Linked DNA regions of Homo sapiens. The protein of the gene in region 1 interacts with the protein of each later gene in a pairwise test. Each region holds a gene or a part of one and is shown on either strand. Other genes may lie near its edges. The genes, in order: DISC1, OLFM1, ABI2, UBASH3A, TRIO, BRD1 and HNRNPC.

Region 1 (4,240 bases):
ATGCCTGTACCCCTAATGTATCTTGGAAGTAACTAACTTGCTTTTGATTTTACAGGCTCCTAGGTGGAAGAGACTTACTTTGTCTCAGATTAGATTTTGGACTTGGAATTTTGGGCTAATGCTGGAATGGATTAAAACTTTGGGGTACTGTTGGAAAAGCATGATTGGTTTTGAAATTTGAAAGGGACTTGAGATTTGAGAGGGGCTGGGGTGAAATGATATGGTTAGGCTTTGTGTCCCCACCCAAATTTCATCTTGAATTGTAATCCCCATAATCCCCAAATGTTAAGGGAGAGACCAGGTGTAGGTAATTGAATCATGGGGGCAGTTTCCCCAGTGCTGTTCCCAGGATAGTGAGTTCTCATGAGATCTGGTGGCTTTATAAAGGGCTCTTTCCCCCTGCGTTCTGCACTTCTCCTTCCTGCCACCATGTGAAGAAGGTGCCTTGCTTCCCCTTCACCTTCTGCCATGATTGTCAGTTTCTTGAGGCCTCCCCAGCCACACTGAACTGTGAGTCAATTAAACCTCTTTCCTTTGTAAATTAACGAGTCTTGGGCAGTTCTTTTTAGCAGAATGAAAACAGACTAATACAATAGAGTCTAGCAATAGAGTGGAGAACAACATAGTTACAAGCTCTGCCCTCAGGGAAAAGAAAACAATAATCACATAAATAATTAGAATTGTCATAAATACTCTGAAATAAAAGTAAAAAATGCTAAGAGATCCATCATATTTTCCAGTTGGAAGGCAGGGAATGTTTCTCCCAAAAAGGTTATTTAAGCCGAGTTCTGAAGATAATATGATTTAGTCAGATGAAGGCCTGGTTATATGTGTGTTGATGGAGAATGGACAGAGAGAGTTGATCTAGCCTGGAAGAGTTGGACAGGTCTGAGGATTCAAAGCAAGTCAGTAGGGCTGGTAACACATATATGAGCAGAAACTGTGTTGTATTGGGCTGCTGAGTCTGGAAAAATACATAGGATTTTGGATGCCTTTGCAGACCAAGCAGCTAAGGACCAGCACATTTCATGGTGACTTGATGGTGTGCAAATTTGGTCCCTCTGATGAATCTTCTAGTTGAAATAATTTATCACTGTGAAATTAAGTCATCAAGTATAAGATGACCAGCTGACTTTTAGCCAGGTAGACAAGCTATCGACTTGGTATGATGAAACATCACTGAGTTCATTTTTATGCCTTTGTTTCCTCTCTGTCTCAGCTGCAAGTGTCCACTGCTTGGGAAAGTGTGGGAAGCTGACTTGGAAGCTTGTCGATTGCTTATCCAGAGCCTACAGCTCCAGGAAGCCAGGGGAAGCCTGTCTGTAGAAGATGAGAGGCAGATGGATGACTTAGAGGGAGCTGCTCCTCCTATTCCCCCCAGGCTCCACTCCGAGGATAAAAGGAAGACCCCTTTGAAGGTATTGGAAGAATGGAAGACTCACCTCATCCCCTCTCTGCACTGTGCTGGAGGTGAACAGAAAGAGGTCTGTCCTTTTCACATGGCCTCCAGAGGGGACCCTTATTCTAAGGGGTGCTTTGGGACCATGCTCCAAATGGGAACAATAAATATTGGGAAGGCTTCCCATTGAGCATATAAACTTTTAAAAGTTTCAATAACTCTTGAATATGATTACAAAATAAAGTAGAATTTTTGTAGAAGTTTGAAATATAGAAGAGCAAAAAAACCCAACTTTTGGCATATTTAGTTCCATTTTCATTCTAATTTAGTGGCTAGAATTAGAATATGCAGTCTAATATAGAATTACCATATATAGCATACATTATATATGTCATATATAATATAGTTATTATATTCACTATAGATTATATATGCCATACATGATATTTAACATATATACTATACATTATGTATTGTATGTCATATATGATGTTTATATATTTAGAATCTATATATTACAATATATTATTATTTATTTGAATGAAACATTCAAATATATGTATTTATCCCATTAATTGTTTTTACCAAAACCAGATCATAATGAATGTTTATAATGTTCTTCTTTCATAAACACAACTAAAGTTTGGCCTGAGATATATGTATTACAAATTAAAATATGGTTTTATTTAACTTTCTTTTTCTCTCCCCTCTTTCCTCTCTCCCTTCCCCTTCCACTCCTCACTTTCCTCCTCCCACCCTAACAAGAGTCTTTTCCATAAAAAGGCCCTAGGAAGTTTTTCCTGATTTCAGTGCCATGACCTGAGTCTTCAGAGCTCTTTGTTGGCCCAGGTTCACAGGTGTTGTGAGTGTGGAAAGGAAATAGCATGGAGAGGCTGGAGGAACTTGACACATGGCTTTCAAGTCTCATGGTTGATGTTAGATGTTAGCTGTGCTTCCTCCCTGGGTCTTTGCCAGGACTCACCACTGGTGGGTGGGGAAATTGCCACCTCCCCAGGCCAGCCCTGCCAGTCTCACATCCCATCTGCAGGACCATGGCCTTCAGAGAGCAGACATTTGTGTTCTTAGTCACTGCCTCTGGACTGCTTAGAAAATCGATCCTTGATCCTATATTTGGATTCCATGGTCTTATAAGAAAGCAACCACTGTCACTCTGCATCCTTGCTGGCCCAGTCACAGGCTCTACGTTAATTTATAGACATCTGAACTCGTTTGTTAACCCAGGTGCTACAGGTGGAATCCTCCAGCAAAGCCTGGTCTCCAATGCTCTGGGTAGAGGTGTTGAAAAGTTACCACCTGCTGCAAGTGGATGGCTTGAAAGAATATTCTGGGGTGGAGGGAAGTGCCACCTAAGCAAGGGTTTATTCCTGGGTGGAAGAAACTGCAGGCTCTGGGAATGAGTCTTTGAAGGTGTGTCTGGCTTTCCAAAGTGAGCTACCAGGAGGAGCTCGGTGTGGGGCAGTCAGAAGCCATGCCAGGTATGTGATGGAGTCCCTGGGTCATTGATTCTGCTGGAGGCCAGGACTGATTCAGCAGAGATCCCTTTCTCCTGTAGCGGAGAAAAATGAATATCTTTCCTTTACCCATCTAAAGGTTCTCAGCTGAGGCACCTATACAGACAGAGTAACAAGAGAAAAATGTACAAATGTGCTTAATATAAAATTTACATGACACAGGAGCCTGCAAAAATGAAGACCCAAAGCAACAGAAACCAGTGTATTTTTATGCTTAAGTTTGAAGAATAGCAGACAGATGTGGAGAAGTATAATTGGACAAAAGGAGTATGATTTAATGGCAATAAACTGGGGGGAGCTTAGCAAGGCCTGTTTGCTCGGATTCTTCGCTGCATCCCTGTGTCTTCAGAGATAAGGATACTCCTTTCCTTTGGGTATAGGTTGTACACTTTAAAGATGAGGGTGTTATAATCTACTTTAGAGGAAGGTCAGATAATTATTTATGGCCTGCTTCAGGAAAGAATGGCTGCAGAAGGTCAGAGAGACTTTCCTGCTTCTGCTGTTCCTCAAATGCCAAGGTGCCATATTTTGGGGTAGTGTATTCTGAACCCCATCACTCTCTCCCTCCCTTTCTCCCTCCTTCTCTGCCCTGCCCACTGAGCCCTGAGCCCTCCAGGTTCTCTGGGGACAGACTTTCCCAGGCATAGGAGGATTCGTTTTCCTGCATAGCATTATAAGCACCTGTCAATTTCACTATCTGGCTATAAGAACACAGAGCTATATTTGTTGAAAAATAGGAAGCTTGGGGTCAAGGATGAAAAAAGAGTGGAGCCTTATCCTAGGTCCTGTGGTGGCTGCTGTTTGGGTGCTCCAGGGGTCCCCCAGAAAGCCTCCCAGATCCTCTCCACCAATTGAAATGCTGAGGATGTCCTACATTTATTTGTTGCTTTCTTGGGGGTGAGTGGGTGCTTTAGAGGGGACCTTACAGCTTTTGCTGGCTTTCAGTATCATTTCCCTGTTCCTGTATCGCAGTGCTGGATTTATTTTCACAGAGAGGGCAGCCGTTCTCTGAATTCATGAGTGCCATGGATTTTAAGACAATGTTTTCTGAGAACGGCAAAATTATGGGGCCAGAAAACAGATAAATTGTTGCCAGGAAAGGGGAAGGGACTCATTACAAGAGCAACAGGAAGGAATTTGGTGCGTGGAAGTTGGGGGCGGTTGATAGAAGTATTCTCTCTCTTGATTGTGGTGGTAGTTACGTGACTGTGTGTATGTCTAAATCCATAATTTTACATCAGAAAGAGTGAATTTTACTGTGTATGACTTTATAACAATTATTTTAAAAAGTTTTTTTAAATGTCTACCT
Region 2 (4,240 bases), on another chromosome or scaffold:
TGGGCCAGCGTCACGGAAGGCCCGGCGTGTTGACTGAGGAGGCTGAAGTGGCCAGAGCCCGTGTGCGCTGCTGGATGGAAACCCAGCATGGGGCCGCCACTCCTCTAGGCTTCTCCTTCCGGACAACTAACAGAACCACGGCGTGGAAAGTCCTCACGGGATGTTCACAGGGCCAAGGCACTGTCTTAGGGGACACCAGCCTCTGGATGGCAGGGAGGGCTGGAGAGGGGCTGTGAAGGGCTTCTCCCAGCGCCCACCCAGTGCAGAGGGAGCTGCTGTCTCCCCCGAAGCCCAGGGCCCCCCAGCAGCCGGAGGGTGAGCCCAGCCATGGCTCCTCCCTCCCACCTCCTGCCTCCTGCTCCTCCAGGGCCTTAGTGAAGCCGCCCTGAGCTCCACCTCTCCGCCAGCGAGTTGCACTGGGGTGAAAATCTGGGCCGGGCTCTCCTGGAAGAGGAGTCTCTTGTGAGACTTCTCAGACCCCCCACATCTTCTTACTTCTCGTCCCCATAGACGCCGGTCAGCTGTGGCCATCTCCTCTCCATCCCTTTCTTCTGCTGCTTCTCCTCCCACAGATGGGGAGCATGGCCTGGCCCAGAGCCCGTGTGGACCACGGCCGAGAAGACCCTGGCAGCCTCTCACCCGGCCCCACTGCCAGGAAGCCTCCAGCCATGAGGGGACAATATTTACTTGGGAAAGCACATAATTCCTCCTGAAAGTAGGAATGGGGAACTACGCACGGAGGAGGAAGGGAGGGAAGGGCTGTGACATTTCTTCTTCCAATCGGGGCAGAGGCGGCAGCCCGGGAGCCAGGTTGCCGGGGCCTTGGAGCAATGCAGCCCGACTCGATGGGAATTTGGGGGCAAACCCAGTCTTTTTCTGTGGGCAGTGGGCTCCTCGTCCCTCTGAAAGCCCTGGTGCCCGGATGCACGCTCTCCCACCAACCCACAGAATCGGAGACGCCTCCATGCCGGCAGGGCCGGGAGCGTTCCTCTTTCTGGTCTTGTGTGATGCCAGTAACAGGCCACTTCCAGTTGGGAGAGAGTGGGAGGCACCCTGAGACCCGCGCTGAGCATGGGAGTGGCCAGGCCGCGTCCTCCCGGGGGCCAGCCTGGAGCCTGCCCCACCCTGCTTGCCGACAGGATTATCCTGGCTGAGCCGAGGTCCGGGCGCACTCACCCGCAGTCTTCCCCCACACGTGGATGGCCTCTGAACTCGTGTGCTCGTGCAAGCCCACCGAGGGTGCCACGCAGACCTAGGAGGTCACAGGCGGGCTTGGCCGGGAGGGACAGGGCAGGGTGCGGGGACTTGTGGTGGAGGGGCCCTTCCTCTACCCTCCCCAGGAAAGCCACCCACTTCCCATCCAGGGTCCCTGTTAGAATCAGGAGCGTTTGGCCCTTCAGAGGGCGGCCGAGGCTCGTGCATTCTGGAAGAGCTGCGTGGCTGCGCAGACACACCGGCCTCCGGGCAGGAGGAGTTCTGTTCCTGTGCAGTGGGTGTGGAAGCCGCCCTGAGCCCTCGGGGGTGTGGGGGGCTCCAGCCTCAGTCCAAATCACCGGGTGGCCCGGGTGTGTCCCTCCTCACCTCCATGGTCCTCTGTGAGACGGGAGGGCTGCTGAGATCACATCCAGGATCCCATCCGCCCTGGTGCGCTCCAGCTTGGGCTCCTCCCACTGGCAGAAGCAACCGGCTCACGCCTGTGGGAGAAGCGCGCAGGCTCTTCCTGCGGGAAGGCAGCTGTGGCCTTTGTCCCGGGTCAGTTCCGGGGCGGCTGGTGGTGCTGCTGCTCCATCGTGGGACAGGGCCTGCCTGGATGCAGTGTCTCACACTGGGCCTGACTGTGCCCCACGCGGGCTGGGCTGTCAGGGCATGACCTCTAATGCCCTTGGGGGTGGAGCCGCTGCGTTCCCATCTCCAAGAGAAGAAAATTGAGTCTTGGCAAAGCTGACCCCCTCTCCTAGAGGTGCTGCTCCAGCACCCCCATCCCCAGGCCATGGGTCCAGCAGGCTGAGGAGGCGTGAAGCCTGGGAGGGCGGCCGTCTGCCCACGGCTCTTCCCTGCTATCCTGGCCACAGCTGCTCTGTTTTGGGGAGGAGGTGGCTTTTCCGAGAGTGGGGGAGTTGTCTGTGAAAACAAGGGCGTGAGCAGCTTTCCACAGTACCCCAGACCCCGAGGGCAAGAGGAGAAGCCGCCACATGGCACGTGTGCTCTGGGCAGTCGAGGTCAGGGTCATCACCGCGGGCCGGGGCCCCCGCCCTCCCTCTCCTGACCTGCGTGCTCTTTTCCAGCTTGCGGGAAGTTGACGGGCATCAGTGACCCCGTGACTGTCAAGACCTCCGGCTCGAGGTTCGGATCCTGGATGACAGACCCTCTCGCCCCTGAAGGCGATAACCGGGTGAGTGTCCCCTTATGTCATAGGGGGTCATTTGGGCAAGGGCGCTCTCGGACACCTGGTGGGCCCCAGACATGGGTACAAGCCACGCCCACCCTCCAGGGCCTATGGACTGGGCAGCTTGGTGCCTGGGGGCGTTTGTTCCTGGAAGACTTTCGGGAGGGACCCAGGCCTCTATGCTAATCCAGAGCTGTAGATCATGGGCCAGGGAGTGACATGAGGTTGATGGTATCCCATGACATGGCTGTAGACCCCTTCAAGGCCTCCTCCCCGGCCCGGTGGGCTGGGCTGGGCTGGGCTGGGCTGGGCTGGGCTGGGCTGGTGCCCCAAGTCCATTTCTCTGGAGCCGAAACCCAGCCCTGACTTTTCCGGTCCTTGCATCTGCTTCAGGAAGAGAATTCATTAGGCCTTTCTTGTTTTAATGACATCTCATTTGTATTTCATTTGCCATTCCTTTCATGGCTGATGGAGACTCATGTTCCTTTTGATTTAGGAAAGAGGCCATGTTCTTTTTTCCCAGGCTTTTCCCCGCTGGGTGAAACCTCAGAAGAGGAGAGAGAAACAGGCATCATATTTGCCTTTATCTGGGGGGCTGGGTTTTATGTTCGAGCCCCTTTGAAAAATGGGGAGGTGAGGGTGGCTGCCCGACTGATGGTGAGGCCCGGCCTCGCTCGGCCCCTGGGCCCCAGACCCCTGTATACAGGCAGCATGGGCTTGTAGACTCCCTCCAAAGTGAGCACCCTCTGAAGGCTCTCGATGGGGGAGGGAAGCTGTCAGGGCTTCGCTGTCCCTTGATTTGCAAACTGACCTCTGGCTGCCAGAGTGGGCATTTCTCACCCAGCAACCCCTTCCTTCAGGGGTTTGCAGGACACTTAGAAAATAAACACTTAAAAACAAACAACCCAGCTCTGCCCTGGGCCGACTGAGAAAGGCCCTTTGAAATGTGAGATCCTCTAAGCTTTATCTGGAGCGGGTTTGAAGGAAGGGATGGACCCAGCTCTCTCCCCTCTGATTTCTGATCTCTTTGCCTCCCTCCTTCACCATTGCCACCATTTCCACGAAATCTCTTATATTTAAAACATGGGCGGTACGGCCTCTGGCACACTCCTTCCTTCCAGGAAGATGGCTGGGGAGGGGAGGGGGACTGGCAGACTTGCTAGAGCCTGTTGCATGTGTCTTGATCCCCCAGCCTCGCATGGGAGTGGCCCCCGCCCCCATCTGGAAGGGCTGGCCAGACTGCAGAGCCGGGATACAATTGGTGTTGGGTGTTTGTCAGGGAGGTTTTTCTGTCCTGTTTTCTAAATTGTGACAGCTGAGGCTTGGAAGTTTTCTAACAATTTAATTAGCTGTGAAGACTCTGACCACTCTTTTATTCCACATCCCACCTGGAAAACCCCACTTATGTTCAGAGTTAGGAACTTGCTCCTGCCACAGATGTTTTTGTAATGATCATAATACAGAAGAAAACAAGGTGATGCTGGCAGGCACTTAGAAAGCAGGCCCGGGCACAGTGGCTCACACCTGTAATCCCAGCACTTTGGGAGGCTGAGGCGGGCGGATCACCTGAAGTCAGGAGTTTGAGACCATCCTGGCCAACAAGGTGAAACCCCATCTCTCTAAAAATGCAAAAATTAGCCAGGCGTGGTGGCGTGCACCTGTAATCCCAGCGACTCCGGAGGCTGAGGCATAAGAATCGCTTGAACCTGGGAGGCAGAGGTTGCAGTGAGCCGAGATCATGCTACTGCACTCCAGCCTGGGTGATAGAGCGAGGCTCTGTCTCAAAAAAAAAAAAACAAAAAAAACAGCGAGTGTGTCCTGTGTGCAGGTGCTGTCCAAAGCACTTTCTTTTCA
Region 3 (4,240 bases), on another chromosome or scaffold:
CACCCACCCCAAATCCATTTTGCAGCACCCTACTCACTGTCCAGAGATTCTGGGAAAAAAACAATAGAGAAGACAAAGCCAGTCTAGACACCATTTGACTCTACCTTGTGAATATTCTGAAAGTTACATTAGGCTAGTTGTAGATTTTTTTTTTTTTTGAGACAGAGTCTCTGTCGCCCAGGCTGGAGTACAGTGGTGCGATCTCAGCTTACTGCAACCTCTGCCTCCTGGGTTCAAGCAATTCTCCTGTCTCAGCTTCCTGAGTAGCTGGGATTACAGGTGCACGCCACCACGCCTGGCTAATTTTTGTATTTTTAGTAGAGACGGGGTTTCACCGTATTGGCCAGGCTGGTCTCGAGATCCTGACCTTAGGTGATCCGCCCGCCTCGGCCTCCCAAAGTGCTGGGATTACAGCGTAAGCCACCGTGCCTGGCCTAGTTGTAGACTTTTGATAGCTTATGGTTGAATTTTTATGGGATTGGTTAATAGATTGGATTCATGAGGTAGCATGTAGGGCAACACATTCTATTTTGGATTTTTCATTTACTTTGTGTTTCCTTCCAGATACGAAGCTCCTAGAAGATGGAGTCATTTCTTAAAAATTTCTATATTTTCCCATTAGCCGTAGGATGTTCTCCATATACTAGCCACTCATTAAATAGTTGCTGAATGTAAGAAATACAGACTTGAATATGCAAGAGCCTATGCACTGAATTATTTTTATTTTATTACTTTATTTTATTTTATTTTTTGAGACAGGGTCTCACTCTGTCACTCAGGCTGGAGTGTAGTAGCACGATTATGGGTCACTGCAGCTTGCACTCCCAAGCTCAAACAGTCTTCACACTTCAGCTCCCAAAGTAGCTGGGACTACAGGCTTGTGCCACCATGCCCAGCTAATTTTTTTTGTTGTTGTTGTTAGAAATGGGATCTCACTATGTTGCTCCGGCTGGTCTTGGAACACCTGGGCTCAAGCAATTCTCCTGCCTTGGCTTCCCAAAGTGCTGGGATTACACCTGTCAGCCGCCATGCCTGGCCTTGAATTATTTTATAAGTAGGATATAATTACATGTAAATTTACCTTGCAAGTTTTTTCCTATTTGATTTTTTGGTGACATTTATGTTCTGTAAAGTTTTGCAGTACTTTTCATATTTGCATAATTCATGCAAGGAACATAGTTTTGCTTTTTTCTTCTTAAGTAATATACTTTGTAGAAAATTTGGATGAGGTAACAGCTTTGTTTTGAATCATTTACAACATGAATTTTTTCTCATTTGATTTTTAAAGTCAGGTTTATTGAGTTTTAATACATATATGGTACAAGTCACCCTTTTTAGGTGTAAAGGTTTATGAATTACAATAAACTTACATAGTCATGTAACCACCACAATGTAAAATTTTCCTTGTACCCTCTGTAGTCAGTCCTGTCCCTCCACTACTAGCCTTTGGTAAACACTGATATATTTTCTGTCCCTCTAGTTTTTGCCTTTTCCAGAATGCCATATAAGGGGCATTATGTAGTATATAGCCTTTTGTGTTTGACTTCTTGGTACTAGAAGTCCTAATACATTTGAAAATCATCAGTGTTATTGTGTTTTGTCAGTACTTTGTTCCTTCTTATTACTGAGTAATATTCTAGAGTATGAAAGAATCATAATTTGTTCATCCATTCACCAACTGATGGATTTCTGGATTGTTTCTAGTTTTAGGCAGTGGTGAATATGGCTGTAAACATTTGTATACAGGTGTTGGTGCAACCTAAGTCTTCACTCTTTTGGGTAAATTTAAGGGAAAAGATCAACTGTTGTACCCTGGTAACAGTGGATGTATCCACATAGGCTGCATAGGCCAGTGCTTGAACTGCATCTGATCTGAATCTTGGCCGAGCACTTTGTGATCCTCTTGGAATATAAGATTATGGAAGTTTGCGAGGACCTTATGTGAAGCCCTTTCTCAATCTCTTCATCTGCCGAGGAGGCTGTACGTGATAACAGTGCCTCATCACCTCCTAGTTCCCATGAGATGAGGCTCTCTATTGTACCCTTTTAGGTAGTAGCTGCAGGCTGTAAGACTTTAGTTGCAGCATGGCATTGGCTCCTCCGCAACAGAGTGTCATATCTATGTTGTAGTCACCTGGCTCCTTTTGTTTTAGTATTGCTTTACACAAGGGCTGTATCTTTTACTACTATTCCTTCTGCCCTCCATGTAAATGGTAGGCTTTCTGAACCTAACAAGCAGTTGGGCAGGTCTATCACATTGCCTTCTCTTTGCCTTGACAATAAATATCTAATAGTGGGATTATTACCGTATGGTAAATGTGTGTTTAGTTTTATACAAATTGCCAAACTCTTTTCCAAAAACGATGGTACCGTTTTGCGTTCCCACCAGCAAAGATCCAGTTGTTCTTCATCTTTGTCAGCATTTGGTTTTGTCAGGTTTTAAAATTTTAGCTATTCTCTTGTTAGTGATGTCTCAAAGGCCATATATGACAAGCCTACAACTAACATCATACTCAACCATGAAAAGTTGAAACCTTTTCCTCTAAGATCAGGAATAAGACAGTGGTGCCCAGTGTCACTAGTTCTATTTAATCAAGTACTGCAAAGTACTAGAAGTCCTAGCCAGCCAGTTAGGAAAGAAAAATAAACAAAAGGCATCAAAATTGGAAGAAGTTAAATTGTCTCTGTTTGCAAATGACATGATTCCTTATGTATACAAAACCCTAAAGACTCCACCAAAAGACTGTTAGAATTAATTAACGAATTTAGTAAAGTTGTAGGAGACAAGATCAACATACAAAAATCTGTTGTGTTTCTACATATTAACTACAAACGATCTGAAAAATTAAGAAAACATTTCCATTTATAACAGCAGAAAGAATAGAATACTTAGGAATAAATGTAATCAAGGAGGTGAAAGGTCTGTACACTAAAAACTATAAGACATTTATGAAAGTAATTGAAGAACATGCAAATAAATGGGAAGATATCCCGTGCTCATGAATTGGTAGATTTGATATTGTTAACATGTCCATACTACACAAAGCCATCTACAGATTTAATGCAATCTCTATCAATATTCCAATGGTATTTTTCACAAAAATAGAAAAACCCTAAAATTCATAGGAAACCACAAAATACTTTGAATAGCCAAAGCAGTTTTGAATAAGAACAAAGTTGGAGGTATCATACTTCCTGATTTCAAACTATATTACAAAGCTATAGGCCTGGCATGGTGGTTCATGCTTGTTATCCCAGCAGTTTGGGAGGCCTAGGTAGCCAGATCACCTGAGGTCAGGAGTTCAAGACCAGCCTGGCCAGCGTGGAGAAACCTCATCTCTACTAAAAATACAAAAATTATAGGGCATGCTGGCACACGCCTGTAGTCCCAGCTACTCAGGAGGCTGAGTTGGGAGAATCGCTTGAACCCAGGAAGTGGAGGTTGCAGTGAGCTGAGATCATGCCACTGCACTCCATCCTGGGCAACAGAGCGAGACTCTGTCTCAAAAAAAGCTATAGTAATCAAAACAGTGTGTTACTGGCATAAAAGACATGTAGACTAATGGAACAGAATGGAGCCCGGAAATGTAGCCACATCTGTGCAGTCAACTAAGCTTTGATAAAGGCACCAGGTACACAATGGGGAAAGGATAATTCAGTAAATGGTATTGGGAAAACTATATCCACATGCAAAAGAATGAAATTTGATTGTTATATCACACATACAAATTAGCTAGAAATGGATTAAAGACTTAAATGTAAGATCTGAAATTATAAAACTCTTTGGTATGGGTCAGATGTTTGTTCCCTTCAAATCTCTTGTTGAAATGTGATTCCCAGTGTTGGAGGTGGGTCTTGGTGGGAGATAATTGGATTATGGGGGCAGATCCCTCATGAATGATGTAGCACCATCCCTTTAGTGATAAGTGAGTTCTTGCTTGGTTCACGTGAGAACTGGTTGTTTAAAATTAGTCTGGGAGCCCCCCCACCATGTGACATGCTGGCTCCACTTCTGCCATGATTACACCTCACCAGAAGTACGTGCCAGCACTGTGCTTTGTGTAAAGCCTGCAGAACCAAGAGCCGATTAAACCTCTTTTCTTTATAAATTACCCAGCCTCAGGTATTCCTTCATACGATCATAAGAATGGACTGATACACTCCTAGAAGAAAACATAGGGGAAAAAGCTCCTTGATTCTGGTCTTGACAATGGTTTTTATAAATATGACACCAAAAGCA
Region 4 (4,240 bases), on another chromosome or scaffold:
AAGTCTTTGATCCCACGACTCCGTCTTGGCAGACTGCAGGGGAAATTCAGGTCTGGCCTGTAGTATTTCCCTGAAGTATAAATAAGCATCAGACGTTCAGTTTCATCAAGTTAGTACAGATTTGTTCCACAAAACTCCCAAGACCAAGACCCACTCTAACAGCAATGTTATTATTGAAATTATTGTCAACTGTGTTGTTTCTGAACATTCTCTGCAACGTGGCTTCAATTTGAGAAGAAAGTGCTGCTCAGCTGTGCACACAACATTTTCTCAAATGCAGACAACTTAGGTTTCAGCCCCAGGAACTATGCAACCCTCTTTGTCCTCCCAAAATGCCCCATGAAGATTCACTCTTACATTTTCCTGATGAAGAACCTGATAAAGTGTCTCTATGACTAGTTTAGTGTAACTCGGTAAGAATCTGAAGTTGGCATCAATGATCCATCCCCCTAGCTTTAAACGTATCCTTCTTGCTCAGGGGACAGAGTGCTTGAGCTGGAGATGCCTGTGTTGTGCATTCTTTAGTCAATTGCTTGAAGCCAGGCTGGAAGTGGGCTCACTGGGACTGTCTCCCACCAGAGGCTGCCCGGTGCCAGGGTTCACGTGGAGTTTGACCTTGAGTTCTAAGATCTGACAGTCTGGTAGCAAATCCTGGCATCACCATCTCCTCACTGTGCAGCCAGAAATAAATGACTTCATCTCTCTTATCAGTAAAAAACAGGGAAAGAGTAGCGATTGCGAGGTGTCAGTGAGGTAACACCCATAGCCCAGAGTCTGACTCAAGAGGGAGTGGTCAACGAGTCGGGGCACTGGTCTCATGTCACCACGTCAGGATGACTGATTATCCTCACACAGGACACCACGACACACTGCTCCCTCCAGTGCACTCTGGTTTGCCTTCACATTCTCCAAAGGGACCCCAAGCCTCCTGGTTATTAGGAGGTTCCAGCAGCCACACTGACCTTCCTGAGACCTGCTCTGCCATACATAGCAGGCCCTGCCCTTTGCACCCCAGAATATGCCAGGCCCCTTCATCCTGGCCCACAGCCTTGCACAAACCCAGAGTCAGGGGGCAGTGGGGGGCAGCAGGGGTCAGCGGGGGGCAATTTTTCATGCCTGCATTTTAGTTTCCATATAGGAGTTTTCTGAAGACTCCCTCCCTGGGATTTCCATGGGCAGAGACTCTTGTTTGAACACTGCATTTTAGAGGTGTTTATTCAATGCCAACATTAGCTCTTGGGAAAGGCAGTTTTAAAATCAGAGAGAAAGTCCATCAATTTCATTGTGTTCTCAAAGGCATCTGTGATCCCCCTCTAAAATGTCAAGACACTCCATTTAGGTATTTTGCTGTCATTGACACTTCAGCTGTGATCACTCTGGGGGCAGAGGGCAGAGCTCAGGAGAGGACAAGGATGTGGGGCAAGGTCAGGTCCTGATGGGAGCAGAGTCTGTGTGGAATATGGGGTGAGGTGAGGGGCCCTGTGAGGATGTGGGTGCCTGGGCCAAAAGTGAGCTGAGCTGGGGAGAGGCCAGTAGAGCCCCCCAAATCTCCCTTGTGTTCCCTGAGGTTGGTCACCTTGGGGGAGGACGTGGCTATACCTCCTTGTGATTTATTAAACCCTGCAATATACAAAATTCAGACAAACTAGATGTAATTCTTCACTTTATCAAGGGCCTCTCTACCTTGGGAAAAGATCCACCAGGAGTTTCCTTTCAGATGGGGATTTCCAGTGCCTTTAAAATATTTTCCCTTATAAGTGACTTGATCTTTTGTCCAGATGACCAAATATTTTTTCTTTTTCTATGAAGTTCAATAACTATTTTTGGTGTTGATTGTTTTGTATTGGTTCTCCCCACCATGGACAAGGTGTGTCAGTTCAATCTATAGCTTCAGTAATTCAATAGCTAAAAAAACTGTTTTATTGAAAAAAAGTTTCTTATATGTTTGTTAATGCATCCTGATAGCCACCTATTGTCTTATTGTTGCTTTAAGCTCTTGTATCTTTACTTGATCTTGTTTTATAGAGGTGACCATATTATTAGCTCTGTGAGTTCTTGGAAATATGCTTGATCATGATGTTATCTGCTCAGAATCTTTTCTGGTGTGTGATTGTCATCTGCCAATGGTTTTCCCTACTCATTTACCACTTTCTTGGGTCTGCTGGGCTTCTGGAGGGGGATCCCAAAAGGGTTCGGCTAACCTAGCAACTGTGAATTGATTTTGTCACTACATTCAATGCCTTAATTTATGTAATGGGTCATGGCTTAGAAATTGTGACACTACAGGCTTCCTATTAGGAGATTAGCATTGATGTGGACATTGATCATCAATACAGAGGTTGGCTTGTGGGTATGTGTATTTATAAGCACTATTCTTACTTCCTGGCATTCAGAGGAGAAAAGCTGGGGTGTGCAAGAGGCATGTTCAAGAATACGTCCATCTGTTAAGCAGCATAGCCAAAAATTACATCAGTTAAGATTAGGTTGGAGAGGTTCCAACACAGACACTCAAATGCATACATGGAACACCCCTGGAGGAAGATGTAGCAGGCACGTTTTCCACACATACAGTCTACACATGGTCATTCTACAGAATGGTGCCTCAGGGGATCTGGTGCCATGTAAGGTCATTAAGAAGGAGATCTCATTGGTTAGATCTACAGTGTTTCTGTCCGTAGACCCGCCTGAGTGTGACCTACCATCAGGAGTGGAGCATTGCTGCAGCCATGCCTTCCCGAAGATCTGATCCACTCTCTCCCCGTGGCGAACCACCAGCACGCTCTTCCTTGCAACGGTAGCCTGGGGGGTGGGGCAGGAAGCAAGGCACATGCAGTTTAACATCCAACTCACTGGACTTGCACCAATGGCAGCTCTCCCAGTCACCCAGCAACTGCGAGGGAATCTTTTCCTTCGTTAGTCAATAGCTCAGCCCATTTTGCCCAAATCATTAGAATGAAAGAGGACATGAAATTGACAATCTCTTCAATTTCTTCCAATGTTTTATTTTCTGGGCATTCTAACATCAAGAAAATGAAAAGAGACAGGATTGGCCCCTATCATGACACATCCGTTTTTCTACTTTTCTGTCTTTTCTAAGTCCTTATCATTCCCATAGAGACGTCTTAGGACATTATCCCTATCTATATTATAATATGTATTGTTATAGTATAGATTACCTATCTATATATCTAGTCTCCTCTCTTGCTGGCACACTTCTTCTGAGAAACCCTCCAGGACTGCCCTGGTGTTGACCTGTTGAGGGGCCGTCCTTTTATGGCTCCCAGGTATGAATTCTGCTTCTGAGCACCAAGGGGAGAAGCCCTCATCCATCCCCTTGCTGTTTTCCCATAGCTGGTCATTCTCTGTTTGGCTGAATGCTAAAGGAAAACAGTACTTTATAGTTTATTTACTTCTTCTCGGCATGAGACTGGCCTTGGCGGTGGCCAGCAGCTTCGAGCCAGGGACAGCAGCTCTCTGGCACCTTCCTCCCCAGCCTCAGGCAGCCGCAGGATGGCCTTGGAGCCTTGCAGTTACAGGGCTCACGCCCGCCCTCTTTCTGGGGAGCCTGTGCTTTGGGGAAGTAGCCCAAAGGTCATGCTTGGGGCAGCGAGGCTGGCTACCCTTTGGGAGGGGCCTCCACTGTGTGGGATGGTGTTGTGGGGGGCTCTGTCCTCAGGGGCTAGGCCACCCTTCTCCCCATGCTGTGCAGGGCTGATCAAGTTGAGGGACTGGCCTTGAGAGGAACCCACAGCAAATGAGATGAAGAGAGTGAATGAGAGCTGAGGATGCCCCCCCTGGGACCAGAGAGCAGAGTGCTAGGGGCCGAGCCAGCTAGAGGCCACCAGGACAGCTGCGTGGAGCATAAGCCCTGCACCAGGACCCTGGAGGGAGACACCAGGCTCGGCTGCTTCCCTGGAGGGCACTAATGTGCCAGCTGACATCGGCCCTTCACCTACATTCCCAGCCCCAGAGCCAGGCCCAGGCTATCCAGGGGGGTCCATTTCAGAGCAAGAGGTGGGGAACCCTGCAGCAACACAGGCCCAGTGGTGCTGCCCTCTGGCACCCAGGACTCATGCCTCAACCTCCCTGTGACATGGCACCGCAGGGGGGAGCATGTCACATGCTGGTCCATGAAGCTGCAGTCCACAGCATCCCTGCTTTAGGGAGCTGCAGGTCTCCCTGGGCCAAGGGATGAACATGGAAAGATGAGTCATTAACAGAGATGGTGGGGGCAGAGCGA
Region 5 (3,500 bases), on another chromosome or scaffold:
CACGCCATCCCCCGCAACAGGCGGGTTTGGACCCTTGACTGTGCCGCTCTACCACCGGCTTCCCTCTTAAGATGGAGACACCCTGTACCCCACTCGCATCTTCCCAACAGAGCTTTACAAAATCCCCCTCCTTGTCTAGTCACGCCTTAGAGGCACGGCCCTGAGATCCCGATGACACATTCATAACAGGTGACAGGTCCGACATGTTTACTTCTTACTAGCCCAAAGAGGTCTTCAAAGCAAATCGCATCATAACAGTCACCCGCTCCTGCCTCTTTAGGGCTGACCAGGGTCGCCTCCTGGACTGCGTGGTGCGATGGGGAAGCCTCACTGAAGGGAAGATCAGGGCGCACCTGGGGGAGGTTCTGGAAGCTGTCCGGTACCTGCACAACTGCAGGATAGCACACCTGGACCTAAAGGTTGGTGAGGCCCCGGGCAGGTGAAGGGGGGTCTGAGCACACCGGCTTGGCCATGCGGGACACAGAGCCCCCTCTGAAGCCAGGCCAGGAGCCCCCAAGTGACTAGGGACAAAAAGGGTGGGTGGGGCAGCGCAGACACTGATTGCTAATCTCTCTCTCTAAGCGTTTGCGTTCAGTGATGCACACGGTCAGGAGCACACTGGGTAAAACGCCGGAGCCCTCCCAGCCTTCCACGACTTTCAGAAAGTCCCCATGAGTTTTGCCCGGTGGGTGTGGCGGGTGCAGTGGTAGCTTAGGCGGGAAAGAGAGCATTCCCCTTGGTGCTGGGAGGGAAAATGAACACCCAGCTTCATAAAGCAGCCTGGTTTCATTAGGCTACTTGGCACTTAGATCTCCAAAGAGAGCTGCCCTGTGTGGATCTGGGTCCCAGCTCCGCTGTGTCATCTCTTCCTCCTCACCCTCGGCTGCCAGCTGAGTGGTCCGGCCTGCTTTGCACATGCATGGCTTGTCCTAGTTGACATCCTAGATTCCTTCCACCTCACCATAGAGTCCCGCCCATCATCACGAGTAAGCTTAAGATTGGATGGTCTGAAAATGACAGTTGTATTCTGATTTCCAGCCTGAGAATATCCTGGTGGATGAGAGTTTAGCCAAGCCAACCATCAAACTGGCTGACTTTGGAGATGCTGTTCAGCTCAACACGACCTACTACATCCACCAGTTACTGGGGAACCCTGAATTCGCAGCCCCTGAAATCATCCTCGGGAACCCTGTCTCCCTGACCTCGGATACGTGGAGTGTTGGAGTGCTCACATACGTACTTCTTAGTGGCGTGTCCCCCTTCCTGGATGACAGTGTGGAAGAGACCTGCCTGAACATTTGCCGCTTAGACTTTAGCTTCCCAGATGACTACTTTAAAGGAGTGAGCCAGAAGGCCAAGGAGTTCGTGTGCTTCCTCCTGCAGGAGGACCCCGCCAAGCGTCCCTCGGCTGCGCTGGCCCTCCAGGAGCAGTGGCTGCAGGCCGGCAACGGCAGAAGCACGGGCGTCCTCGACACGTCCAGACTGACTTCCTTCATTGAGCGGCGCAAACACCAGAATGATGTTCGACCTATCCGTAGCATTAAAAACTTTCTGCAGAGCAGGCTTCTGCCTAGAGTTTGACCTATCCAGAAGTTCTTTCTCATTCTCTTTCACCTGCCAATCAGCTGTTAATCTGAATTTTCAAGAGAAAACAAGCAAACATAACTGATCAGCTGCCGGTATGTTCATCGTGTGAAATTGCATTCCAAGTGAGCTGTGCTCAGCAGTGCTTGGACACAGAGCTGCAAGCTGCGCTGGGGTGGAGGACCGTCACTTACACTCTGCCCAAGGCAGAGGTCGCATTGCTGTATCACAGTATTTTATTCAGGTTTCTGCAAAAAAATAAAAAGATAACTTTTTTAAACAAACATGAATAGAATTTTGCAAATTTAACGTTTTCAAGATTTATTCAAGGAAACAAAATGCCTATGTTCAACCACTGGTGTTAATGAACAAAGATACTGTGCGTCTCTGGGGAAGACGCACCTAGGTGGCGGCCACTCCCATGGCCTTGTCTAGGACTCAGAGACCACTCGGCTCTGAGCTTCCAGGCGCCTCGTCTGTGTGCATCTCACGCCCGACGTGGCTTCTGAAACGTGCATTCAACCTCAAACTTTTGCATAAAATAGAATGAATCGTTTTGCTCTGATGAAATGTAGGCCTTACTTGTATATAAGACTGTTCCTGCCTTCGGTCTGTCATTTTCCCACCTGCCTCCCCTACCCACCCCCCACCCACCACCTGGGGCTTCCTCTGGGGGTCCGAGGGTCTTCCCATCACATGAAGACATCAGGTTGGGTCCTGCCCCACTGCCCCTCCCCCTGTTCCTGCCCCAAGCCGTCAATCAGATTGTGGAGCAGTACACAGTCAGATGAAAATACTGTAAATGCACTCATTGGGGGTTTTTTGGTTTTACTTCATATCATGTGCAATGTTGTGGCTTTAACATTTTATGCAACTATTTATGAAGACCTCTGTTGTACCTGTAATAAATATATAGAAAAAGCACATACTTCGTATGGTGAGCTTTATGGTTTTGTGTGTGTGTTGGGGTTGGCGGGTGGGTGGGTAGGGTCGTAGCCCTGTGCCATCGGTTCAAAGAGACTTTTCGTGAAATTTGTTGGTTTTGAGGACTGTAAAAGTGATTTCATACTCTGAATATAAAACTGGATAATAGGGTAATGTTTTAAAATTTATTATGCTATTATTCAGAATGCCAAAGTATTATTTTTTTTCCCAAAATCAGTCTGGACATTTACTACTTTTTAGACTTTTTGACGTTGAACTTTCTGTATAAAAATTGGCTGGGTTTTGAGCTTTTGGTAAGAAATAAAAGCCGATTAAGCACTGGCCGCCCCGCGGCTGGTACCCAATGCCCGAGTCACTGTGGCAGCATTCGCACTGGTGTGGGGAGTCCTTTCAACTCAAGGAGGCTGGGTTTCTGGGCACCCTCGAAGTTTTCTGGATGTCTTTTTATCTTTCTCGTGTGAACTGCACTACAAAAGAGACCAGCCCGCTTCCCAAGCCAGCCAGACACCTGGGTCTTGAGCCATAAACTGGCGTAGTTAAGCTTTGCAGCTTCCAGTGTATTTTATTTATTCTTTTGTTGGGTTTTTGTTTGTTTCTTCTTGTAAAATTGTACAGAAACTTTTTAAAAGAAATTGGATTCGAAACTGGATGTGTATTCGTAACCTCATAATTTTTATTTGTGTATTGTTTCTTTTATTATTTCAGTTAAATTTTTACATTATTTTGCATGTATATTTCTTTGTACAGAGACCTTACATGTTTACACAGTATGATGTGATGTAAATATTTTATTTTGCCATCAGTTATTTTAAAAAATTAAACATATTTGCCTGATTTTTGTGTTAGGCTTTTTATTTAAATTGGTCACTGTTGAATCAGAAAGACAGATGGCTGAGGGAGAGACTGATGCAGAGACTTCTCGTGGGCGGGAGGTGGCAGAATGTACTGGATTGAGAACCCTCTGTACACAC
Region 6 (4,240 bases), on another chromosome or scaffold:
CCTGAGTGGGCCCCCAACACCTGTCATCCTCCACAGCTGCAGGACACGCGCGCCCTGCCAGCCTCAGGACAGCCGTGGCCATCAGTTTCTGGCACATGCTTCACAGCCCTGAGACCCTCCTCTCCCCCAACGCCTCTGTCCCCGGGTTCCCACCTGCCCACCTCAGGGTACTGTCATAGCTTTTCAAAGGACCGAGGGTGTGAAGGCAAAGACTGCTGGACTACAAGATGCAAGGACCCCGGACTCCAAACTGCTCAGAAAAGGAGGCTCAAGGAGGGAGGCCGAGCCCCGCACCCCCACCCCCAAGGCCAGGCCTCTCCATGGCGAGGCAGAGCGTTGCTGCGCTGATGTCCCCTGAAGTGAGGATCTCTGGGTTTTCCTCAATGCTGCTGAACACCCTCAGGCAGGAAATCGGGGCTAAGAGTAACAAGATCCACATCAACTCAAGCAAAGGCAGGAAAATGTGGGCTCCAAAAACCAAGCTCCCCGGAGCATCTGAGTATTGCCTGTCCCTCAGCTTGCAATCGACACTTCTGAAAACCTCGGCCAAAAGGACATTTGGCCTGGGAATCTGTTACGAAGCGGAAGAAATCTCCTCATCACCAGGAAGCCCTTTATCACGCACTGGCTGCTAAGCAAACTTACTAGTCTGCTCCCCAACCTGGTTTAACAAACGCCATCGGCAGTGGCAGGGGCCCCGTTGACAGCACCTGGGCCCAAGGTCCCATGACACATGCAGCCTCATCCACTCAGAAGGATCAAGGTTCCTTACTCGGCTCTCAAGGGCTCGATATTTCCCATGTAAAAATCAACAGTGGGAGGCTCCACGAGAAAGGACAGAAGTGAAGAAGCACTCAGGCATCCCCACTGCCGGGAAGAAGCTGAGCGCCTCCGCGTCCATTCCAGACACATGGGGGAGACACAGGGCAGGGCTAGGCGACGGTCAGGTTAAAATCGCCTCTGCTGGGAGGACAGGCCAGCTCCTGGGGTGAGGGCCCACAGTGTTACAGAGTGGCCGACCCCAGGCCTCCTGGCAACAGCACCCAGCTCCTGCCACTGGGCCCAATGCCGCCAGCAGGTGCGTGGGACTGGCAGAGGCCACACACGCAGCACAGCAAGGACGATGTGGGCAGCAGCGCCCAGCATGCCACAGGACAGACACTGGGAAAGCTGCAGGATGCGCTCCCAGGACAGGAAGGGTGGGCCACGGGAGCAGGAGACAGTGGGACGCCACCAGCATACACACAAATCGCTGCTCACCCTTTATAAAGCTAAGCTGCCGCCCCCGTTCTCCCTGCGGCCTTCAACGGCCACACACACCAGAACAAAAACCAGGGCCTATATGCGCAGCCAGCACAGACCCGCCATCGCTGCAGCACCCTCGGCGCCTGCTGGCCTCTCAAGAGACCCCGTCCAGTTCATCCACCTGCCCCCACCACAGGGTCAGGCTGGGGCAGGTACACAGAGACACAGAGGAATCAAATGCATCAGGTACTTCCAAAGCTTCAAAACCATGAAACCACACCAAGCCGTGGCCATCCCTGGCCAGGAGAAGGCAGAAGCACAGTCTCTCCCAATAGCCCGTTCACACAGAGGCAGGTTTCCAGGCTCTCCACGCCGACTGCTCTGCTGCGGCTCAAGTCCAGGCAGCTCCTTCTGCTCCTTCCCAGGTGACTTCGAGAAGCTGCCCCCTCTGCCAGAAGAGCTGCTCTGGCCGGGCTGTGGGGATGTTCTCTCCTTACAAACGTATTCTGCACACAACAGGACGTGAGGCCTAACAGGCAGCGATGAAGCAGAGGGGGCCCAGCTGGCAGGTTCCAGCGGGTCACCTCTTCTTTGCAACCCTCCCCCTTCCCTTGCCTGGCTCCACCACGCCCCAGGCCACCCCCAGCTGCCTGGGTCCCCGTGGCCCCTGCCCACTGGCCCACGTGTCCTGCTACTGCAGGGATTCTGGCCCTCGTGTCCCAGCTTATGAGAGTAGAAATGATGATTCCCACCGCTGGACGTCCCGTTTGGCCACATCCATGCCCACTTTCCATGGAATCTGCCCTTCAACAGCTCCTCTGTGACTTACCTGGAGTTCTGTCCAGCCCCGAGATAAGACCCAAGATCTGAACCCTCAACTTCCTCCCAAAAAAGCCTCTCTTCCATTCCCCAACATCGCAGGGGCGGAGACCAATGCCTCCACTCTCTTCCTTTCCCCAACATCGCGGGGGCCGAGACCAATGCCTCCACTCTCTTCCTTTCCCCAACATCGCGGGGGCCGAGACCAATGCCTCCACTCTCTTCCTTTCCCCAACATCGCGGGGGCCGAGACCAATGCCTCCACTCTCTTCCATTCCCCAACATCGCGGGGGCCGAGACCAATGCCTCCACTCTCTTCCTTTCCCCAACATCGCGGGGGCCGAGACCAATGCCTCCACTCTCTTCCTTTCCCCAACATCGCGGGGGCCGAGACCAATGCCTCCACTCTCTTCCTTTCCCCAACATCGCGGGGGCCGAGACCAATGCCTCCACTCTCTTCCATTCCCCAACATCGCAGGGGCCGAGACCAATGCCTCCACTCTCTTCCTTTCCCCAACATCGCGGGGGCCGAGACCAATGCCTCCACTCTCTTCCTTTCCCCAACATCGCGGGGGCCGAGACCAATGCCTCCACTCTCTTCCTTTCCCCAACATCGCGGGGGCCGAGACCAATGCCTCCACTCTCTTCCTTTCCCCAACATCGCGGGGGCCGAGACCAATGCCTCCAGCCCCCAGAGCTTCCCGCCGCTCAGCCACTTCCTGACTCTGGCCTCTTAAGAGCCCCCCAAACCGTGCTGTCCTTTCCAGGAGCCCTGGAGGCTACGAGGTGAGGACAGAGGAGAGATGGAAAGCCAAGTCACATCATGGAACGGAAGATGCGGTTAACTCATTCAACAGCCAAAAGACATTCACTGAAGCCTCAACTCTGTGGACACGTGAGGATCTCACTTGGAGAGGGGCTGGCTCACAGACCTGCCCGGGGAGCCCCAAGTTCCATGGACAGACACACAGTGGGGCAACCCAGGTGGACGGCACGGGAGACCTGGAATATTCCACAGCCAAGACGCACCAAGGCCGTCAGAAAACTTTGGACCCCACCACACCAAATCAGACCCACAAACCACCACCTGCCAGACCAGAGCACCAGACTCTGTAGTTCCCTGGAGCACAAGGCAGCCACGGCAGGTGACTGAACAGGGCTCACGCTGCAGAGGCAGAGTCTGCGAGGCAGAGACAGCACCGGCCACCGCACCACCGCACGGGGACCCAACCGTGAACCCTGTAGACTCAAGCTTCCTGTGAGCAAGTCACCACCTCACAGCAGAGCAGGATGGTTTCGCTTCGTGCCCAGGATGGCAGTGAAAAGCACCATGAGGAAATTCCAAGAGGCACTCAGGCCACGCGACGCCAGCAGCAGACAGCTCTTCCAAAAGACCAGCGGCTCCTCACTAGGCAGCGTGGGCAGAGGGCGCTGGCCGCAGGTCCTGGGCCGTGTGCAGAGCTGCTTGTGTTTTCAATTACTTTTGTGCATCTCACAGAAGCTACTTCACTCTGTAAACCCATTTTTTCAGAACTGTTTCACAGTATCAGATGAGTCTATAAACTCAAACCTACTATCAAAATGTAAGAGTTTGGGTTTGTTCTTTTAAAAAGGAAAAGTCCTGCTCCTTCCCTCCCACTCTCTCAGCTCTCTCGAGCCCTCCCCACCCCACCACAGTCCCAGCTAAACCAACCTTCAGAGCAAGGCCCTCGAAATAAACCACTCCTCACATATTTCCAAAACCCACCCTCCAGGCCCAGCACACAGACCCCCACCCACATGGCCCGGGTGTGCTCACCGGGTCCCACTCCTGCTGTCCCCAGCCCGGACGCTCATGCAGCCACAGCATAACACATCCCTGAGCATCCCCAGTCCCCAGAGCTGGCCACTGCCCATCAGCGTGTGTGCGGGCAGGGCAGGGCGGGGGAGCGCAACTCAAAACGGAAGAAACACCCAGTGACAGGCATGGATGAGAATCACCCCCCGAGTCGCAGATCCAGAGCCCAGTGCACCCGACTCCTCCTACAGCTCCAGGGCTGGACGAGACGGAGGCTTCCCAACGGGGAGCCTGAGCCCAGGGGGCAGCACCGTGACCAGCCTGAACCAGGTGCCCTCTCCCTGGAGGGTGGGGGTGAGAGACGCAGAAAGGCTGTGGGGGCCACGAGCCACGTACCTG
Region 7 (4,240 bases), on another chromosome or scaffold:
CACCTAAAATGACACCTCTGAGAGTCATCTGTTAGCTTTTCAAAGTAGCCTAGAAGTCTCCTGCTCTGTGAAACACATGCCTTTCAATGCAGAATGTCCCCAGTTTTCAAACTTCAAATAACCTAAGTATTTTGGCACTCTCTCCCTTCATACATATATATAAACAAACCCATCTCTCAGGTACAGTGTTACTCAAAAACATCTGAAAAATAGAAAAGGAGGTCAAAGTGTCTGCTAATCTAAACTCAGTAAGGTGAAGGTTCTCCTTCAACCCATATTGTTAATCCAAAGCCTCAGGCTTTGTGTGCCCAGAACAAAATTAGGGATATTAACTATTAATAGTTGAAGAAATGATGGTTTGACAGTTCTGTCTTGAATTTCAATGGTTTCATTTCAACTAATTTTCTCTCTCTACCAAGATACATTCCTAGAAAAGTCAGGTAGAATAAAACCAGCAGCAAAATTGCTTGTCTCCTTGAAATTCTGACAGCACAAACTCTGTGAAACCCCCCTTCATGTAACCATTAATGGCATAATCTATCATCTAGTCACGAAGACAAAATCTCAGCTTTTGACTATTATTTTCCTACAAGCACCTACTTTCATACCTTTAGTCCAACCAATCACATCAAGACCAATCTACTTCAGAAATTCTCCCAACCTCCTCTCCATTCCAACATTTACAATGTTTACCATTTAACACATCTTTTTTCCTCTAGCCACAGGCCTGTTTCTAAAATACCATCTATAGGACACAATCCCAGAACATGTAATACAAAGCCCTTTACAACTAACATTCTTTACAATTTACTTTACAGCTGGCTGCTCCTCAAACACATCAAGGCCCCTCACAACTCAATCTTTGTTACATGTGTCATCTTTGACCTGTGAGTTCTTGAAGATTTGTCTATTTCTAATGCACTGACATATTAATATATTTAGCCATGGAGTAATAACAGCACTCTGAAAACCTCTAAGAATTTCATACTCGTTACTTATATACTGTATTACTAGTCATGCACCACATACAAAATGTGCTAAGTTTAAAAAGTCCTCAGAAAGACCATTGAACTAAACCAGTCTTTTTGAACCAGGTTTCTTGCTCACCAAGTCTCCGCTGTCATAATAAAGCCTGTTATCAAACCTGCCATTTATTGGCAGTTTCTATTTCGTGTTGCCCAAAGTTCTCCAAATAAGAATTAAAGAGGCCAGGAACGATGGCTCACATCTGTAATCCCAGCACTTTGGGAGGGCGAGGTGGGCAGATCACCTGAGGTCAGGAGTTTGAGACCAGTCTGGCCAACATGGTGAAACCCCGTCTCTACTAACAATACAAAAAAAAAAAAATTAGCCACGCATGGTGGCAGGCACCTGTAACCCCAGCTAATTGGGAGGCCGATGATGCACAAGAATTACTTGAACCTGGGAGGTGGAGGTTGCAGTGAGCCGAGATCGAGCCACTGCACTCCAGCCTGGGCAATAGAGCAAGACTCTGTCTCAAAAAAAGGAAAAAAAAAAACAGAGAGAGATGAGACGACTCAAGAAAAGAGCTGACAGTAAATCAGTCTCTATGAAGGCTAGCAAGATGTCCCACAATGACTGAGAGTTCTTTTAATTCTAAAAGGTGTCCATCCTCAGGCGTAAGAGTTACCTTTTGAGGCTGGTAGCACCAGACGGGTTTCATCTATGTCTCTAACTGGCAAGTATCCTGATGTAGGTAGGGTCCACGAGATATGACAAAAAAGAATGACTGTCCATAAGACAGTGATGTATCCTTTTTCAATTGTAATGTCGCATCCATTTTCAATCAAAACGTCATTCACATACCATAAAATTCACCATTTAAAAGGGTGCCACTCCGTGGTTTTTATTAGTTCTGCAATATCACCATTATCTAATTTGAGAACAATTTCATGGGTGATCAATTATAAGGGAAAGTGGGGTTCCAATTTATTACAATCTGAAGAAAATATATCTAGTTTATATCTAGATATAGTTTTAGTATGAAAACACTGCAGTATTTGTGGCACAAATCAGAAAACACATATAGATCAAGACTTTTATGAGAATTTTTTAAAGAATTATAAGAATAGTGCCAGGTTGGGCCAGGTGCAGTGGCTCATACCTGTAATCCCAGCACTTTGGGAGGCCAAGGTGGATGGATCATGAAGTCAGGTGAGGAGTTTGAGACCAGTCTGGCCAACATACTGAAACCCCATGTCTACTAAAAATACAAAAAATCAGCTGGGTGTGGTGGTGTGCACCTGTAATCCTAGCTACTCAGGAGGCTGAGGCAGGAGAATCTCGAGAACCTGGGAGGCGGAGGTTGCAGTGAACCGAGATCTGCACCACTGCACTCCAGCCCGGGAGACAGCACGAGACTCGTTTCCAAAAGAAAAAAAAAAAAAAAAAAGAAAGAAAGAATAGTACCAGGGTAGCTGTTGACGAACATCAATTTCATGTATATGCCAGCCTACCTAAGGACTTAAAGATCTATTTTTAGAGTACTTCCCAATCTCGCTTAATTCAACAACTACAGCTTTGAATACTTGTGCATTCCCAACATTGTGATAAAAATTCACTTTTATTACAACACCTTTCGCAAAACAAAACCAGCGCCTTCAAATGAATATTAAAAAGAGGGCCAGGCGTAGTGGTTCACACATGTCATCTCAGCACTTTGCGTGGCCAAGGCAGGGAGATCCCTTGAGCCCAGGCGGGTGGACCACCTGAGGTCAAGAGGTCAAAACCGGCCTGGCCAACGTGGACAAACACTGTCTCTACTGAAAATACAAAAATTAGTTGTGTGTGGTGGTGCACACCTGTAATCCCAGCTACCTGGGAGACTGAAGCAGGAGAGTCGCCTGAACCCAGGAGGCAGAGGTTGCAGTAAGCCAAGACCAACCCACTGCACTCCAGCCTGAGTGCCAGAAAAGACTCCATCTCAAAAAAAAAAAAAAAAAGGGGGGGGGGGGACAGTGATTTTTACTCCGATTTACATATGAAGACCCAGAGCTTTCACTCAGAGCCAATTTCCCATCTTCTTTGATTAAACAATTTAACATAGTCAATGAAGTATCGCTGTTACCATTTAAAATAAAAATCTAAACCTTATGATAATGAATCTTCAGAATGACTTCTTAGAAGATATTAATACCATTTTTCTAAGTTGTTATTCCACCAGGTCATACCCAACCTATTTCCCAGGTCCAAATTGACCTAACATTTTCCAAACCAGCAAAAAACTCCTGTATCTGCCCCTCTCCCCACTAAACAAACACTCCTCCTCCTTTCACCTTCATTAACATCTATCATGTAAGACACACACTCAATTCCTCAATTCTCCAACCCAACTTGAGTAAGTTCCCATCATGTGGACACCTCCTAAAATTCATTTTCCCAACAAAGATCTCAGTACTCTAAAAGTCAGCTCTTTGCCAGCTATTACCTAGTTGCTCCACTAGTTATCAGTAATCATTATCTACTGGCTGACGTTAGAACAATAGAAGACATTACTTTTCACTGACAATAACATGCAGCAATATATCCGACAGTAACTACTAGTATCGGCTGGTGCAAAAATAATTGCGGTTTTGCTTTTTACCGTTCAAAGAAATGTCAAAAACGGAATTACTTTTGCTCAAACCTAATATATTGTTGTCTATTGAAAATCTGAAGAGGCCACCAATTTCTGTGAAGATATTTCTGCAAACGTGATTTCTTTAGATTTCTCTGCAGTATATATCTCATTGTCTCAACTAATGTTTTCCAAATTCCCTGCTCAAATTTTCAAATTTCCCCATTCACAATGTGCCTTGCCAAGAAAAGACTTTTTAATGAGAACTATTTTCAAGAAGACTGTCACTGTATACTGCTAAAACTTGATACACTCATAAAAAACATCAACTAAGAGTCCATGACATCCCTGAAATTATACCAACAAAAGTGTGAGTTTATTAAACTGGTCTGAATTGAGCCATGACAAAGAAATAGGATAATAATACACAGAAACACAACCACGTCCTTAATCTTTTATTAATGATTCTCAACTCTGACTGGACAAAAGAACACATAGAAAGCACTGAAAAATATACTAGTACTTAAGAAAGTCTGCATAAGACCAGTTGTGTAAGAATCCCTATAGGAGAAGCTGGCATGAGTATATTTTAAATGTGGTCAAGCAATTACCATGTGCAGAAAGGGTTAAAGGGCAGATGCTTCAGACAAACTCACTGGGTTT

What was found.
Region 2: the proteins of DISC1 (region 1) and OLFM1 interact in binary tests that used the Homo sapiens proteins (3 or more experiments, as listed by UniProt).
Region 3: the proteins of DISC1 (region 1) and ABI2 interact in binary tests that used the Homo sapiens proteins (3 or more experiments, as listed by UniProt).
Region 4: the proteins of DISC1 (region 1) and UBASH3A interact in binary tests that used the Homo sapiens proteins (3 or more experiments, as listed by UniProt).
Region 5: the proteins of DISC1 (region 1) and TRIO interact in binary tests that used the Homo sapiens proteins (3 or more experiments, as listed by UniProt).
Region 6: the proteins of DISC1 (region 1) and BRD1 interact in binary tests that used the Homo sapiens proteins (3 or more experiments, as listed by UniProt).
Region 7: the proteins of DISC1 (region 1) and HNRNPC interact in binary tests that used the Homo sapiens proteins (3 or more experiments, as listed by UniProt).

The regions. Positions count from the first base shown.
Region 1 is NC_000001.11:232,007,566-232,011,805, forward strand, and holds part of DISC1 (disrupted in schizophrenia 1 protein), read left to right. Parts: intron 1-1,219; coding exon 1,220-1,484; coding exon of another isoform or gene 1,485-1,589; exon of another isoform or gene 1,590-2,089; intron 2,090-4,240. UniProt on the Homo sapiens protein: Involved in the regulation of multiple aspects of embryonic and adult neurogenesis. Required for neural progenitor proliferation in the ventrical/subventrical zone during embryonic brain development and in the adult dentate gyrus of the hippocampus.
Region 2 is NC_000009.12:135,104,464-135,108,703, forward strand, and holds part of OLFM1 (noelin isoform 4 precursor), read left to right. Parts: intron 1-2,285; coding exon 2,286-2,392; intron 2,393-4,240. UniProt on the Homo sapiens protein: Contributes to the regulation of axonal growth in the embryonic and adult central nervous system by inhibiting interactions between RTN4R and LINGO1. Inhibits RTN4R-mediated axon growth cone collapse.
Region 3 is NC_000002.12:203,334,525-203,338,764, forward strand, and holds part of ABI2 (abl interactor 2), read left to right. Parts: intron 1-4,240. UniProt on the Homo sapiens protein: Regulator of actin cytoskeleton dynamics underlying cell motility and adhesion. Functions as a component of the WAVE complex, which activates actin nucleating machinery Arp2/3 to drive lamellipodia formation.
Region 4 is NC_000021.9:42,430,662-42,434,901, reverse strand, and holds part of UBASH3A (ubiquitin-associated and SH3 domain-containing protein A), read right to left. Parts: intron 2,800-4,240; coding exon 2,700-2,799; intron 71-2,699; coding exon 1-70. UniProt on the Homo sapiens protein: Interferes with CBL-mediated down-regulation and degradation of receptor-type tyrosine kinases. Promotes accumulation of activated target receptors, such as T-cell receptors, EGFR and PDGFRB, on the cell surface.
Region 5 is NC_000005.10:14,506,842-14,510,341, forward strand, and holds the end of TRIO (triple functional domain protein), read left to right. Parts: intron 1-280; coding exon 281-419; intron 420-1,038; coding exon 1,039-1,581; 3' UTR 1,582-3,363; downstream 3,364-3,500. UniProt on the Homo sapiens protein: Guanine nucleotide exchange factor (GEF) for RHOA and RAC1 GTPases. Involved in coordinating actin remodeling, which is necessary for cell migration and growth. Plays a key role in the regulation of neurite outgrowth and lamellipodia formation.
Region 6 is NC_000022.11:49,799,967-49,804,206, forward strand, and holds part of BRD1 (bromodomain-containing protein 1), read right to left. Parts: coding exon 4,238-4,240; intron 1-4,237. UniProt on the Homo sapiens protein: Scaffold subunit of various histone acetyltransferase (HAT) complexes, such as the MOZ/MORF and HBO1 complexes, that acts as a regulator of hematopoiesis.
Region 7 is NC_000014.9:21,223,933-21,228,172, forward strand, and holds part of HNRNPC (heterogeneous nuclear ribonucleoproteins C1/C2), read right to left. Parts: intron 1-4,240. UniProt on the Homo sapiens protein: Binds pre-mRNA and nucleates the assembly of 40S hnRNP particles. Interacts with poly-U tracts in the 3'-UTR or 5'-UTR of mRNA and modulates the stability and the level of translation of bound mRNA molecules. Single HNRNPC tetramers bind 230-240 nucleotides.